Homo sapiens: one gene and its partners. The protein of the gene in region 1 purifies or fractionates together with the protein of each later gene. This does not show direct contact. Each region holds a gene or a part of one and is shown in the gene's direction. Other genes may lie near its edges.

The links. Proteins that work in one complex are often made in the same cells at the same time.
Region 2: the proteins of FCN1 (region 1) and PTPRG purify together in Homo sapiens (affinity purification with mass spectrometry; 3 studies listed by BioGRID and IntAct, with this or other methods). This does not show direct contact.
Region 3: the proteins of FCN1 (region 1) and KIAA0319L purify together in Homo sapiens (affinity purification with mass spectrometry; 3 studies listed by BioGRID and IntAct, with this or other methods). This does not show direct contact.
Region 4: the proteins of FCN1 (region 1) and PTPRA purify together in Homo sapiens (affinity purification with mass spectrometry; 3 studies listed by BioGRID and IntAct, with this or other methods). This does not show direct contact.

What each region holds. Positions count from the first base shown.
Region 1 is NC_000009.12:134,906,640-134,912,418, reverse strand, and holds part of FCN1 (ficolin-1 precursor), read left to right. Parts: intron 1-1,151; coding exon 1,152-1,286; intron 1,287-2,373; coding exon 2,374-2,621; 3' UTR 2,622-5,779.
Region 2 is NC_000003.12:62,201,571-62,205,070, forward strand, and holds part of PTPRG (receptor-type tyrosine-protein phosphatase gamma isoform 1 precursor), read left to right. Parts: intron 1-1,602; coding exon 1,603-2,380; intron 2,381-3,500.
Region 3 is NC_000001.11:35,438,904-35,442,403, reverse strand, and holds part of KIAA0319L (dyslexia-associated protein KIAA0319-like protein), read left to right. Parts: intron 1-67; coding exon 68-158; intron 159-1,265; coding exon 1,266-1,357; intron 1,358-3,500.
Region 4 is NC_000020.11:3,026,981-3,030,480, forward strand, and holds part of PTPRA (receptor-type tyrosine-protein phosphatase alpha isoform 1 precursor), read left to right. Parts: intron 1-140; coding exon 141-217; intron 218-726; coding exon 727-861; intron 862-3,500. UniProt on the Homo sapiens protein: Tyrosine protein phosphatase which is involved in integrin-mediated focal adhesion formation.

The sequences.
Region 1 (5,779 bases):
ATCTGCAACATAAGCACCTCTTGGCCCACAGGGGATTGGGCCCTGAGCACACTCAGGTGGCACTGGGACCTCTAAGGGCTGCGTCCCCTGCCGCAGGCTCTGGCAACATCGGGAAGGGAAACGGTTAGAGCCCTGGGCTGAAGGCCTCTTCAGGTCTTGGTCCTACTGGCATCTTAGATCCTGAGAGTGGGAAGCAGGAGAGAGACCACTGGGGCTTGGGGTAGCCTTCCCCCATCTCCAGCTGTTGATCTGCCTCTGAAGCTGGCATCTTAGTCCCATGGAGAGCCCACGCTCGCCTCCTCCAGCCCACGCCTCAGCAGGCCCCCCACAGCCGCACTCACCTGAGTGAGAGGGCCTCCCCCCAACCCTCTGGGGCAGGGGATGAGTTTCACAGCTGGTCCTGAGGCAGTCTGTATAATTGCTGGTCCATTATCCCTGCCCACTGCCCTGTGGCATGATTGAAGGAATCCACTCAGGTGCCTCAAATTCCTGCAAAAGAAACTACAATTAGAGCTTCGCCCACTGCTGTGTTAGTGGCTCACCAACCCTTAGAAGGAGAAGGTACACTTTCAAAATGAAAGAATGCTCCCTTCCACCCAGTGAACTCCAGTGGGGCATGTTCAGTTCTCTGAAATAACGGGAAAGGTGTTTAGAAACAGAAAGCCATCCCTGAGGGCCTGATAGCAACAAGGGATTTTCTGACATTTCCGGTTGATTTTTTTCCTGGATGCCACGTTCAGACATCCCTTAAGAATATATCCATCCCCAGCCGGGCACCGTGGCTCACACCTGTAATCCCAGCATTTTGGGAGGCTGAGGCTGGTGGATCATGAGGTGAAGAGATCGAGACCATCCTGACCAACATGGTGAAACCCCATCTCTACTAAAAATACAAAAAAAAAAAAAAGTAGCTGTGTGTGGTGGCACACACCTGTAATCCCAGCTACTGGGGAGGCTGAGGCAGGAGAATTGCTTGAACCCAGGAGGCGGAGGTTGCAGTGAGCTGAGATGGTGCCATTGCACTCCAGCCTGGGCAACAAGAGCGGAACTCTGTCTCAAAAAAAAAAAAAAAAAAATTACCCATCCCCAGCCCTCATGCCTGGTGACAGAAAGATCTTAAAGGCTGGGGCCTTAAAATCTTTTTCCAACAGGAAGCAGCGAGCTCCGTGTAGACCTGGTGGACTTTGAGGGCAACCACCAGTTTGCTAAGTACAAATCATTCAAGGTGGCTGACGAGGCAGAGAAGTACAAGCTGGTACTGGGAGCCTTTGTCGGGGGCAGTGCGGGTGAGTGTCTGCTTGGGGCTGGTGGCCTGAGTGGGGCTTGGAAAGCAGAGAGAACCTGGCTCTGTCTCCCCTGGTGACCTTGGGCCCTCCTCTCTCTGAATCCCATTTCTCCATCTATGAAGCAGACACTAGCATTTGTGTCTCTGTACAGCGTGGGGCTCACAGGACATAGCGGCTGGTATTCCTAAGGCTATGTCTGCCGCACAGTGAGCTGCCTGGGCAGGGCTGAGACGACCCACCAGCATCACTGCTGAAACCTGGAAGACGTCGTCCTTTTCTCATGGGTGCCTTGGAGCTGTTTCCCAAACTGTGCTCCATGGAACACCAGCCTTGTGGGACATTCTTTACCAAAAGGAGTCTCTGGCTACACGATCTGGGGAGGCATTTCCTACAGGGCGTCTGCTTAGGGAATTCCCAGTGCACATCGTTCGTGAAAGGCACTGAGAATTGCTGCAGCTGGAAGTCTGTGTAACTAACTGCTCCATGGAGCAAGGCAGTCCCAGGGGAGCCTTGGAAATGACAGCCTTGGAGTCTGTGCAGTCCTTTCACAGGCACGATCTCACGCATGACCTCCAAGGAAGGCAGCAGGGCAGGGAAGGTCACCCCCATTTTGCAGGTGGTAAAACCGAGGCTCAGGGGGTGACATTTCTCAGCTATAGGAGCCAGGGATGAGCTTCCGGCTCAGGGCTTGAGATAGAGGAGAAGCCCCCAGGTGAGGGCTGTCCTGAACCTACCAAGGGCCACCAGGGGACGTGGGGAGAGACCGGAAGGAGCGGCGCAGGCTGGAGGAGGGAGGTCATTCCAGGAGAGAGCAGGAGGCCTGACAGTTTGCGGGAGCCCTGGAGGAAACAGGTGGTTGCTGGAGCAGGGGCCTCAGGTTGTGGAGAGAGATTTCCAGACCAGGTTGCCAGAGGTTGCCTCCTGCTTCCCCTTCCTCCAAGGCCTGGGTGGGTCATTTGTGCACCTGTAGCTCGGCTCATGCGTCGCTAAAGTGAGGTTGGCTCTGCTCAGAGGCAGGATGTGGTGAGGGTCTCACAGTGGCAGGGCTTTTTCCAGCATCTGCAAACCCCACATTTTCTGTGAGCAGGTAATTCTCTAACGGGCCACAACAACAACTTCTTCTCCACCAAAGACCAAGACAATGATGTGAGTTCTTCGAATTGTGCTGAGAAGTTCCAAGGAGCCTGGTGGTACGCCGACTGTCATGCTTCAAACCTCAATGGTCTCTACCTCATGGGACCCCATGAGAGCTATGCCAATGGTATCAACTGGAGTGCGGCGAAGGGGTACAAATATAGCTACAAGGTGTCAGAGATGAAGGTGCGGCCCGCCTAGACGGGCCAGGACCCCTCCACATGCACCTGCTAGTGGGGAGGCCACACCCACAAGCGCTGCGTCGTGGAAGTCACCCCATTTCCCCAGCCAGACACACTCCCATGACGCCCACAGCTGCCCCTTTGCCCCCAGCTCAGTCAAGCCGCCACATGCCCACAACCTCACCAGAGGGAGAATTATGTTTCTAAATATGTTTACTTTGGGACAGAAAAGTTTTACCAGTTTCAATGTGTGTTTCTTGAACACCAGTGGTTTTGATCACTTTCCTGTGTCTGTTGCACGGCAGGTCTTTCCCTGGAATTTGGTAAGTCGGGAAGAGTCAGGACCCTTATTTAGCAGATGGCACTACCGATGTTCAGGGAGGTTGAGTGACTTTTGCGAGGATTTTCCACCTCCAGTAATTGACACAGGGCGATCCTCACCTCCACCCCCAAGCCTCCCCCATCCCCCCATGCCTCACTCACAACACTTCACACTTCTTGAAAAAGGTCACTTTGGGGTCCAGAAAACACTTACTAAAAAGGGGGAAAGTTTAGTAGGAACTTTTCTGCTTCCCACCACGGCAGAGTTCATGCTTTGGGCTGGCTGGCTGCTGGGAAGAGATAAACACTTAGCACTCACTAAGTGAGCGCCTGGTCAGCCACCTGCACAGAGAAGATTCCGAAGAGGCCTTCCTCCCACACACAGACCTCAGCTAGAGGGGACCGCGGACCTCAGTGGGAAAAGCTGCACAAGGCTTCTAGGAGATGATGGAGAAGGGGCTTCTCCAGCTCCCAGGCCAGGGGAGATTTCTCAACCACGACCTAAGAAGCATCAAAGGGAATGTGGCAAGTGTGACTCCATTCAAATCAAGAGCTCCCACTTACCGAAGGACACTAAGGGAACCAAAGGAAGGCCAGAGGGGCAGAATCAACGTGCGGCACACAAATCTTTAGTTTTCTACTATTGCCGCAACCAGTCACCACAAATGGAGTGGCTTGAAACAACAAGAACTCGCCACCTCCTGGCTCAGTAGATCTGGAGTCCCTGGGCCTTACTGGGCCAGCAGGCAGGACTCAGCAGTGGTGGCTCCTTCCAGGGTTCTAGGGGAGAACCTGCTTCCTTGCCTTTTCCAGCCCCAGGGGTCACTGGCATTCATTGGCCCGGACTCCTTCCCCCAACCCCAAAGCCAGCAGCACCACATCTCTCTGACCCTTCATCCGTTGTCCCCTCTCCCCCCAAGCCCCATGGGACAGGGTCTCCACTCCTGAGACTCATGGGATTAGACTAGGCCTACCTGGATGATCTGGGATCCTCTCCCATGTCCAGGTCTCTATCCCTAACCACATCAGCAAAGTCTCTTTTGCCATGGAAGGTATTTGCAGGCTCTGACTTTGTGTGTATTAGGGCAGGACATTTTTGGCGGGGCAGTGGTGGGGGCAGGGAATTATTCTGCCTACCATGCCTTATACAAAAATAAATAAATCACAGGCTTATACCTGAAAGAATTCCTGCAAATAATAAAAGAATTAGAGCAGCTCAGTTAAATAAAAAAAGGTATGAGATGTGAACAGACACTTCACAGAAGATGACATGCAGGGGAGCAAGGTATTTATCAAAAAGTGCTCCACTTTTCACTTACCAGAGAAATGCAAATCAGCACCCAAAGGAGTCACTGCGGCACCCTCATCTGAGCCTCAGAAGTTAGAAAGATGGATAGCACCAGTGTCAAAGGTGACTGTGGGAGGGAGATTTGCATACACTGCTAGTAACAATGCGAATTGATGGAACCAACCTGGAAAATGGCTTGGCATCAACTGTTGGAGAAGAAGACACACAGTCCTCTAACCTGCCAGTCCCACATCAGGGCCTGGATATGGCCGTCATGTGTACCAGGGAGCATGGCCAGGAATCTTTACAGCCAAATACTCACCATAGCACCAAACTGGAATCAGCCGACATACCCATCAGGAAGAGAATGGATGTTAAAAAATGCAAGGATAGCCATTGGGTAGAACGCCATACAGCCATGACAATTACACAGTGACACCTACACACAAGGAGCATGAGTCTCACAAACATGGCAGCAAAAGGAGCCTGTTCAAGAGGGTATGTGCTATGGATTCCATTGTAGATAAAGTTTTTCAAAAGCAAAAGTAGCCAATGGTATTTTGGATGCATATTTAGGTGGTAAATGTATACAGGAAAAATAAGAAAGTGATTGTATTTGAGGGTGGGACCACATGGTGACTGGGAAGGGACAGGGACAAGCCTCTGGGGTTCTGGCAATGCTCTGTTTCTTGACCCAGGTGGTGATTGTAAGGATGTTTGTTAACTAGTGATGAAAATAATTAAGCTGTACTTTTGCTTTATACACTTTTGAGTACATGTTATGTTCCACAATTTAAAAACTACTTATAAAGAAACTGCACATGCTTGGATCCAGGAACATGAGCTACAGGCACATCCTCCACTGATGCCCAGTGTTCTTGACTCAATACCTGTAAGGAGAGGTCCTTGTAGCCCATTGGGGGCTGACCAGACCCTACTACGCCCCTGCCACAATCTCTAGTCCATCACAAAATCCACTATTGGGATAGTACTTTCGTCCCTCAGTAGGTAAGCATTTTTACAACCTAGGAAGACTTAGCTTTAAGTCTAGAAATGATTAGTATAAATATAAAATATAAATATGATTAATATAAATATAAAATAGCCATAGAAATATGCCTTTTAGTTTGTTTTTTGAGACAGAGTTTTACTCTGCCACCCAGGCTGGAGTGCAGTGGCGTGATCTCAGCTCACTGCAATCTCCACCTCCCAGGTTCAAGAGATTCTCATGCTTCAGCCTCCCAAGTAGCTGGGATCACAGGCACACACAACCATGCCCAGCAATTTTTTTGTATTTTTAGTAGAGATGGGGTTTCGCCGTGTTGGCCAGGCTGGTCTTGAACTCCCGACCTCAAGTGATCCACCCGCCTCTGCCTCCCAAATTGCTGAGATTACAGGCGTGAGACACTGTGCCTGGCCAAAATATGCCTTTTGTATTAAGGAATCTGGACAGGTTTGATTTTTCACAGTCTTGTAATGTTTAAATAATTTGGCCTATTATGAAGAATCTCACAAATCCAATATAAAATGTGGAACTAACTAATCAAAATCATCTTGTAATATTACAT
Region 2 (3,500 bases), on another chromosome or scaffold:
AAATTGCTTTGTCGTGGCTGGTTGTTAATTTGCTTGCAGTTAAAACTGTCACCACGAAGTGGCAGTATAATGTTGTTAAACTGCTCAGTGTAAAGCGGTTATAGTAGAGAAAAAATTACATTATTCACTTTTTATAATTCAGTACCTTATGAACACAAGCTGTGCAACAGTGTTAGGTGGTTATATTATATAATTTTGTGAAGGTAAAAATTCTTCATATTTTTAGTTATGATTTGTGGGATCAGACGATGCAGGACCACAAAGGAGTTAAATCTGTTCCAACCCTTTCATTTGACATATACTCAAATTCAGAGGTTGTCATTTGCGTAAAGTTATATGGATCTGAAAATTTCTGGAACCAGAATTAATATCTTAGTTTCCCCATTCCTGGTTGGTATAATGAATAATTAAAATACTAATCACAGCAGTGGTGATAATAATAATAGCCTAAAATTCACTATGCTCTTCCTGGGTTTCAGGCACAGATTATTTTATTTACTTCTCCAGGCAGCCCACAAGGTCAGTGTTACTGTTGTTCCCGTTTTACAGATGAGGAAACCGAGGCTCAGTGAGTTAAAGTAATGTGTCCAGCATCACCCAGCAGGCAAGCTAAAATTAGACTAATAGCTCAGAGCAGCACTTCTTGTTTTCCTAAGATACCTTATGTGAGTAAAACCCCCAGACTTGAGCCCCAGTTTAGTATGGTGGTAAGAACAAGCCGAGTCTTAGACCCAGGCAGCCCTGCATTTGTGCCTTCCAGGTCATGTACCTTGTGTAAGCTCTTTAACATCTCTGTGTCTGAGTTTCCTCACCTGCAAAATGGGGTGATGATCATGCCTGCCTCCAGAGTAGCATGGAAAGCCCTGGCACACGGTTGGCATTTGTTAATTGGAATTCTTGTTATTGTTGTTGATGTTGTTGTCATCTGTATGGGCTCAGATTTTCCCACGGATCAACTTAGAAACTGCAAGGTACAGTGACTCTGCAGTGCCCAACATGGAGATGCAGAGATGTAAACCAGTGCCCAGAGCATGCAGTGCAGAGCATGGCTCCTGCCTCTGACCCTGTCATTGCAGACCTGGGCAGGCTGCTTTCCCTCCTTGTCCACCCACTTCCTCACTGGGAGACAGTGGGGTTGGACTGGATCACCCAGTATCTTTCCAGACCTAGAGCTGAGTATCTACTCAAGTGTCAGTGATATACATAAAATCAAAGGTCTTCTGCCTCTCATCACCCCAAGAACAGATGACCATCTGATTTTTCCAGTTCATGACTTCTTTGTTGTGTAAGTCAGCTTTAACACTACTTAGTTTTTTTGGCACCTAGCCTCATCTTGGGTAATATCAGTGAAAAGCTGAGTTTGATCGACTAGTTATGCATTTTAACATGTTCACAATTATAAAACCATTAAAAATAAAAGTTGATCACCCATGGACCACCTAATGTCAACTTTATGCCATACATTGGAAAACTCCATAGCATAGATGAGTAAAATCCTCAGAGGGTGACAACCAGGGCCTCATTCCCAATCTCAATTACTGATGCTTCTCTGCTTTTTCTTCTTCTGCCTCTTTTCCACCCTTGCCGGGTGACCCTTTCCAGCCCACAGCGTCTCCTGCCTCTTCAGCCGACATGGCCCCCATCAGCTCGGGGTCTTCTACCTGGACGTCCTCTGGCATCCCATTCTCATTTGTTTCCATGGCAACTGGGATGGGCCCCTCCTCCAGTGGCAGCCAGGCCACAGTGGCCTCGGTGGTCACCAGCACGCTGCTCGCCGGCCTGGGGTTCGGCGGTGGTGGCATCTCCTCTTTCCCCAGCACTGTGTGGCCCACGCGCCTCCCGACGGCCGCCTCAGCCAGCAAGCAGGCGGCTAGGCCAGTCCTAGCCACCACAGAGGCCTTGGCTTCTCCAGGGCCCGATGGTGATTCGTCACCAACCAAGGACGGCGAGGGCACCGAGGAAGGAGAGAAGGATGAGAAAAGCGAGAGTGAGGATGGGGAGCGGGAGCACGAGGAGGATGGAGAGAAGGACTCCGAAAAGAAGGAGAAGAGTGGGGTGACCCACGCTGCCGAGGAGCGGAATCAGACGGAGCCCAGCCCCACACCCTCGTCTCCTAACAGGACTGCCGAGGGAGGGCATCAGACTATACCTGGGCATGAGCAGGATCACACTGCCGTCCCCACAGACCAGACGGGCGGAAGGAGGGATGCCGGCCCAGGCCTGGACCCCGACATGGTCACCTCCACCCAAGTGCCCCCCACCGCCACAGAGGAGCAGTATGCAGGGAGTGATCCCAAGAGGCCCGAAATGCCATCTAAAAAGCCTATGTCCCGCGGGGACCGATTTTCTGAAGACAGCAGATTTATCACTGTTAATCCAGGTAAGTGGTGCAGGTCTTCTTCGAGGGTTCCTGCTCCTGTGAATAGTCGTACCCTTTTTCAAAAAATTGGGAGCAGAAGGTGAAGCTTCAGAAGGTACTTAATATTCTTAGAATCATATATGTCTGTCATAGAAAAGGTGCACACATGTGAAATGTGTATGTGTGTGTCCCTGTTTTACTCCAAAAGCCTACTCTCTTACGCTGGAGTAAGTCTTTCTTTGATATTTGTTTTCTTGCCTCGGAATAACTCCAGGGACTTCAACCAGGCAATGATATACATGAATAAAAAAAGCCATCGATCTTAAGAAGTTTATTTATTAAGATTTCATTCCATATTCATTATATAATGTATCTACAAATGGCTAGTTTGGTGCCAGGGACTGGGCAGGGTGCTGTCCCAGGGGATCCTAGTCCCTGCCTAAAAAGTTTAAAGGGGAAGGCAGACAGATGACAAGACAGTAGCTAGCTGGAGCGCATGCCCAGAAGTTAGGTAGCAGGAACGTTAGAAAGCCAGCAAGCTAGATGGTGGTTAGTCGGCAAGCTAGATGGTTAACTGGCAAGCTGGAAAACTAACTAACTGAAGTTTTCGATTGTGAAATGGTAATAGAGGAAATAAACAGGATGCTGTCCAAGAGAATTATGGAGAGGATAGGGACCTACCTTAATTAAGAAAGGCCACTCTGGAGAAGTGGCTTGTTCATGGAAACCTACAGAATGAAAGGCTTCAGCCTGGGGAGAGCTGGTATTGGCCCATGGTCCTTGCCCAAGAAATACGGCCCTCTCTCCCAGAGCTCCCATTGCTGTGGGAATGAGCCAGTGTATAGACAGTGAGGCCAGGGCATGAGATCCTCATCTCCTGGTGGCAATTTTGTTGCTCTATCATATGCTCAAATCTTAATGAACCATCCTGATAGTTTCTGCAAGGGAGCCATAAGCATGAGGAGTTGTTATTGTTGTGAGGGCTTTTCTTAATAAGAAATTCTTCATTTTGCCAGACTACAAGATGTTTAGCAACAATTTTTTTTGCGTCTAAGCTGTTGTGGAGTTATAAGAGTGCAAAAAAAAAGCAACTGGTAAATATTTATTTGCTTTTGCACTTGTAAACATTAAAATTCATCTA
Region 3 (3,500 bases), on another chromosome or scaffold:
GGAGCAGCCCAGACCTCCCTCCCAGCCTCTCCCTCCACAGCCCTCACCATTTTGATTTTCTTGGCAGAGTGGAGCGTGTTATATGTTATCATTGCTACCTTTGTCATTGTTGTTGCCTTGGGAATCCTGTCTTGGACTGTGATCTGTTGTTGTAAGAGGTAAGATGGATTTTCCTTTGAAATTCATTCGGGCTTCTTGTCATACATTCGTTCCTCAGAGAGGTATTTGGCACCTTCCACGTGGAAGGACTGGGCTGGGTCCTTAGTCAGCATTAGAGAGTTCTGACCCACCTAAGGCATGCACGGGCAGCTTTGCTCACCCTGAGACTCTCCTGAGGGCAGAGGCACACTCCTTCAGTGAGTGGCAGCCACTGCAGTGATTTGGAACCTGGGAAACATGGCTGGGCGGGAGCAGGGCAAGGTGGGGGAGTGAGCGTGAGGGCCAGGGGTACAGACCCGGATCACATCTGTAAGGTGTGTTTTCTTTAATGCACCACACTGTAGCCTCACCAGCATAGCCCGCGAGTTTTTAATTCTGCCTTCTTTCTAGTTGGGATTCATGAGTGTGCATGTTTCCACACATGCACTTTAGGCTAGCCAGGCTCAGGCGTCCTGTGTTTTTTCATTTGAGTCTTCCTATTGAGTCTTCTAAGATGGAATGGTTACATTTATTTTATGTTTTCATTATTAATAATATTATTTCTGTGTATACTGTGTGCCATAATATTTTTATAGGTAATATCATTTTTAAGACACATAACCTTTTCCCATTTTACAGATAAAAAAACTTAGGCTCAGGAAAGGTACATCACTGTCTGAGGACCAGTTGATAGTGACAGAGCTGAGATTCAACTTTCAGTATAACCTCTTATAAAACTTAGAACTAAAGGAATTTTTAAAAATTCCCACCAGTCTAAGACAACCACCATTACCAACTTTGTTAGTGTAATGCCTGTCTCCTCCCACACCCTTCAAGCAGAGGATTTTGTTTTCTTTACGTTTTTAACCAATCTGTCCTTCATTGCCCCTGTGGGATGGTGAGTCCGTGCCAAGGTGGTCATAGCTCCCTTGCCCTTCTCCAGAATTGCTGAGGAACATTTGAGGAACAAATCACAGTTGCCACCTTTCCTGGCTGAGAAGTGAGGAGAGGACACCCCTCTCAGTAGGTGCCCCACCAAAATAGGGCCCTGCATGCACATCTGGCTCTCATCCTCATCCTCCCAGAGAACCTCTTTCCTGAGCAGGGGTGGGGGTTGTGTTTTTTAGGCAAAAAGGAAAACCCAAGAGGAAAAGCAAGTACAAGATCCTGGATGCCACGGATCAGGAAAGCCTGGAGCTGAAGCCAACCTCCCGAGCAGGTAGGGGCCCTGGGTGCCAGAGCTTCTAGGTCTGTGCACTCTCTCTGTGGAAGGCTGCTGTCACTAGCCCCTCCTGAGTGTGTCACTAACAGCCCACTGTGCTTGCAAAGCATTTTGTTCCCTTTTGCCTGATGAAGACTGAGGGTCAGATTTGCCCTGAGCTGCACTGGACAAAATGCCTCCAGGACCCACTTCGCGTGCTACTTCCGCTTGGCGGGGGTGCTGGGCCTGTTGTTTTCCTTTGCCTGGGCATTCTCCTCATGTTTCCCACCTGGAGTTCCGCTTTTCCAACTGCCCCAGGTAGTCAGGGTCAGGGACCTTGGACTTGTCTCTTACTGCTGACCAGTCTGTGCTTTATGGGCAGAGATGAGACCCAGGCCCGTGTCTGCCAGCTGACCACCTTTCAGCCAGCCTTGTTCTCCTGTCTTCCTATCTTTATCATTTGGCAAGTCCTCAGCTTCTGTCAGTGTCTTAGGGCAGATAGGAGGGCATTTCCTTGCACAAACAGTAAGATGACTTTGAGTGATGGCACTGGGAGATCAGGGCAGGTAGTAGGCCTTCCTTCCTCCGCTGGGCTGGGTCACCTGGCGAGGGTTTCACTCATCATGGATGCCATGGGACAGGTATCATTGGTTTATGAGAGCTAGACTCTATAAAGCGATTCCTAAACACTCTGCAAGTAGAACTATTTTTATATAAAGCATTTATTAAACACTTTTCATGCTTAAAGCTTTGTGTTAGGGAGAGGCTATGGGGGTATAGGGAGTCATCAGACACAGGCTGTGCTCTCAGTCTAGTGAGGGAGAAAAGACACACAGTAGCAGAAGAGAACAGGCTCACAGCAGTCTGGACTCTGCACCAAGCAGCTCGATCCACCAACACTGTCAAGGTGGAGACTGGAGGTGGTGGGGCTTGAAATGAGCCCAGGAAACCAGAGCAGTGAGGGCGGGCGGGGCATTTCACCCAGGAATATTGAGAATGAGGGCCTGGAGGTGAAATGTGCAAAACCCACCCCTCACACTGCAGCCAAGGTTTTTATCATGTTACTCTGATCATGTTTTTCACCCCCTGACATTCTTCAATGACTTACTATTTCTAGCACAAAAAGCTAGAACTTTTGGTCTGGTAGATGTGGCCTTTGTGAGCTTACATCAGTTTGCTTTTCTGGAATCTTTCTCTTTGCTGATCTCCCTCTTTTCTAAACAAGTTCTTCTGGTTCATCCAGTAATCTCTTTCTTTTTTAAAAATGTGGCGACAAGGTCTTGCTCTGTCACCCAGGCTGGAGTGCAGTGGTATAGTCATAGCTCACTGCAACCTCCAGCTCCTGAGCTCAAGTGGTCCTCCTGCTTCAGCCTCCCAAAGCAGCTGGGACTACAGGCATGCACCACCATACCCAGCCCTAGAAAGCTCTTTCTTATCCCTCCCTTAACCTCCTCAAGTTGTGCTCACCTTTCTCTCACATGCCTGGGTCGGCATTTCTCTCGCTGTCTCATGATTAGTTATGTTTGCCTGTCTCCCCACCCATCAGTGAAATCCCTGAGGGCAGGGGCTGTCTCATTCATCTGTGGATATGGAGCGGGACCACTATGTGCCAGGCCCTGTGCCAGACACTGCTTATATTGTGGTGAATCAAACGGACAGACTTCACTCTTGTGTAGCTTATGTCAGACAGACATTAAGCAAACTCACAAATACATAAAATATGCTCATAAAAGGCCTTTATGAAGAAAAACACTTAAGCTGAGACCTGGATAAGTGGGAGCTAGCCAGATAAAGCTGCAGGAAATAGCATTCCAGGCAAAGGAACAAAACTGGTGCAGACCCAGCTGCTAGAAGGAGCAGAGAGCATTTGAGGAGGTAGAAGAAGGTGACATGATGGACAGGTTCACCTTCCCACAGAGTAAGGGGTGAGTGACCCAAGGCTCAATGGATGAGCAGGGTCCCTGCTGAGGACTTCTCTTGAGTACAATGGGGAGCCACTGATAGCTTTTTAAGGGGATGAATGGTGGGATTTGGTTTACATTTATTATTATTTGAGACAGAGTCTCACTCTTATCACCCAGGCAGGAGTGCAGTGGTGCGATCAAGGCCCACTGCAGTCTTGACCTCCTGGGCTCAGGTGATCCTTCCACCTCAGCTTCCT
Region 4 (3,500 bases), on another chromosome or scaffold:
TTTCTCCCTAATGAGCTAGGAACAGACATGTCCTTGCCCAGCTGGGATTCTGTCTGCCCAGGGCCTGAGGTGGGAGCAATGCAAGGAGAGGGAGAGGACAAATGATATTGGCTAGCCATAAGCCGCTATTCTTCTTACAGATGAATTCAACAGAGTGATCATTCCAGTTAAGCGGGGCGAAGAGAATACAGACTATGTGAACGCATCCTTTATTGATGTAAGTGGTGGGTGTGACCCCTGAGCCCCCAACACCCCGTGGAGATTCAGCCAGCACTTGCAGTGCCTCCCTCCCATACCTGCTGGGGAGGATCATGTTTGAATCAGTCAACAAATAGTGAATTGATACTCACCCACCCACTCACCCTGTGCATTAGGTCTGTCCAGCTCCATAGAGCAGAAGGTGGGGGAAAACAGATGGCATGCAGTAGTATAATACCTGGAAGAAAAAGTTCACAGAGCAGACCACAGCCAAGAGGAACCTGGCTGCCCCCTGATCTTTCCCATTCCTGCCCTCTTCATCCTAGCTCTAATCCCTGTTCCACTTCCCTGTCTCTTACAGAAAGCAACCAGCTTGTCAGATAGGGTTTCGTCCTTGGCCACAGGGGAGCTCTGCATGGGCTGAGTTTGCCTCCGAGCAGTCCCCATTCCCTTCTAGTGGTCTGTCTTCTCCACTAGTCCCTCTGTGATTAAACCATCTCACCCTTGCAATTAACCTGGCCTGTGCAGGGCTACCGGCAGAAGGACTCCTATATCGCCAGCCAGGGCCCTCTTCTCCACACAATTGAGGACTTCTGGCGAATGATCTGGGAGTGGAAATCCTGCTCTATCGTGATGCTAACAGAACTGGAGGAGAGAGGCCAGGTGAGTTCAAAAGGTCCTGGGTGGTGAGAGACAGAGACAGCATGAAAAGATGTGTGTGTAAATGGGGACGTTGGGAAGGCAAGAAGGTGTTTGGACCTTGTCTTTGACTTATACGGTCCAAAGAGTACGTTTGCATAGTATAAGTACATACTTAAAGGTATATAAATACATATGCATTTCCAGGATTGCCCAGCCCGTTGGTGTCTAAGCAGTCATTAGCTTCTCCCAAGACTAGAAAAGCAATGTGATCTGAGCCTCCATGTTATTCCCAGACAGCTCACACCCTTGCACTTTCTCCTGAATACAGTCCCCCTAGCCTAGCCTTTGCACAGTGCCCCAGGCGGGGGGGGCACCCTCTCCTTCCCAGTGCCCCAGGCAGGGCAGATAGGTCAAGGTTCTGAGGTGGACCCAATATGAGTGTCCCTAAGAAGGGATTGCCTCATTGCTGACTACATAAAATAAAGCAGTAGAATTTGAGAAATTATACAAACAAGAAACTTACAGTCTAATATTCAGTAATAAGGAAATCTTTTAAAGAAAAAAGCCCTCAGGTCTATTAAAAAGCAGAGCTGTCCGGAAACTCATACTAAAAAGGGACACTAGCAGTCCCCTAGGTCAACTTCCTCTCAGTATAGGAAACCTCCTAATATTGTTCCTGAGTCAGAATCATACAGCCTCTACTAAGCACATTCAATCTCAGGGATATCTCCCTCACCCCCCACATTATGGGGGGACCCAGTCTGTGTTCTGACAATGCTTATTCTTTTAAAAATTATTTCTGTTGAGGTTGCACATTGCAGCAAATGAGCGGTTCACTATGTCTGGGGTGTCACTTAGCAGGGATGAGAATCTAGAGAATGGGCCTGGAGAGAAGCTAGCAAGGCCTGGTGAGAAAATTCCTTCTAAGCCACAGTGAAGAGTTTGGTCTTCCTAAAGCAATTGAAGAGCCCTTGACAACATCCCATTTGTGTTTTTTAAAAAATCCCTCTGGCAGCAGTGAGAAGGACTCATTAGAAATGCGAAAGCTGTGGCAGTAATGCTGGTGGCCTGGACTCGGGTGGTGAGAGGGTGCTGTCCCAGAAAGGGTGAAGTGAGGAGGAATTAAGGATGGCACCCACTCATGACTCATTGAATTTATAGTCAAACATTTAAAATACAAAGTATGTTTTACATTAGTTGTCTCAAGTCACTAGTTGTTCCCCATCTGTACTTGTGTTAACTTTGGTACAAGGCTTTACACATATTTTCTCACCCTGATGTTTCATTACATCAGGATTTTTTTTTTTTTTTTGGTTTTGTTTGTTTGTTTGTTTGTTTGAGAGAGGGTCTCACTTTGTCACCCAGGCTGGAGTGCAGTGGCACGATCTTGGCTCACTGCAGCCTCAACCTCCCAGGTTCAAGTGATCCTCCCACATAGCCCTCCAAGTAGCTAGGACTAAAGGCACGTGCCACCATGCCCAGCTAGTTTTTGTATTTTTTTGTAGAGACAGGGTTTCACCATGTTGCCCAGGCTGGTCTTGAACTCCTGGGCTCAATTGATCCACCCACCTGGTTGACCCAAAGTGCTAGGATTACAGGTTTGAACCACCTTGCCCGGCATTTTTTTCAATTTTGATCAGTCATTTAACTCATTAGCTATTCTTCCTAGACTTGTATCATGTACCTAATCAACAGACATACTTTGTAGGTCTTCATCATCTTTTTTTTTTTTTTTTTTGAGACGGAGTCTCTGTCACCCAGGCTGGAGTGCAGTGGCACAATATGGGCTCATTGCAACCTCTGCCTCCCAGGTTCTGGCAATTCTCCTGCCACAGCCTCCCTAGTAACTGGGATTAAAGACACCCACCATCATGCCTGGCTAATTTTTGTAGGCACGGGGTTTCACCATGTTGGCCAGGCTTGTCTCAAACTCCTGACCTCAGGTTATCTGCCTGACTCAGCCTCCCAAAGTGCTGGGATTACAGGCGTGAGCCACTGCGCCCAGTGTCTTCATCATCATTAATAACAATACTGATGAGGTGGGAGGTTCGGTTAAGGTGCTTGGCTTTGCACTCAAGGAAGCACACACCTGAGTAACAAAAGCTGTTTAGGAAATGAGCCACTGTGTTCTCAGGAGCTAGGTGCCTGTTCCTGCCGTCTCTGATCAGTCGTGATGGAACCTGCAGATCAGACCAGGGCCCTACCTGTGGTTCCTTCTGCACCCCTGCCCTTCAGATCTGTGATGGGCAGGACCAAAGAGCAGGCCGAAGAGCTGGAACCACGAGCACAAGGACCATCTCGGCCCACTGCCCTGTGATAAAATGTGGCCCAGTGAACATCTCCGCCTCTGTCCAGTCAGATGCAGGCTCTTCCATCCTTGAAAAGGACCTAGTGAGAGTAAAGGGCAGGGGGCAGGAAGCATTTCATGTGTGTGGCGGTGGGGAGAAGAGTCGTGCGCACACAAATTCTGCTGCCTGTTGAGTGAGGCCTCTCCCTCTGCCTTCCACTGTAGCTTATGCTCTGTCTTCCTAGGCCAGTGAAGCAGACAGTAGTGCTTGCCCTCAAAAGCTTCTGAGTGGATTGGAACAGGATGTTAGTGATGTTCTTTACAAGGCCTCACTGGCCCCCAAGTTCACTTTCTGTTCCATTCATGTTGTCAA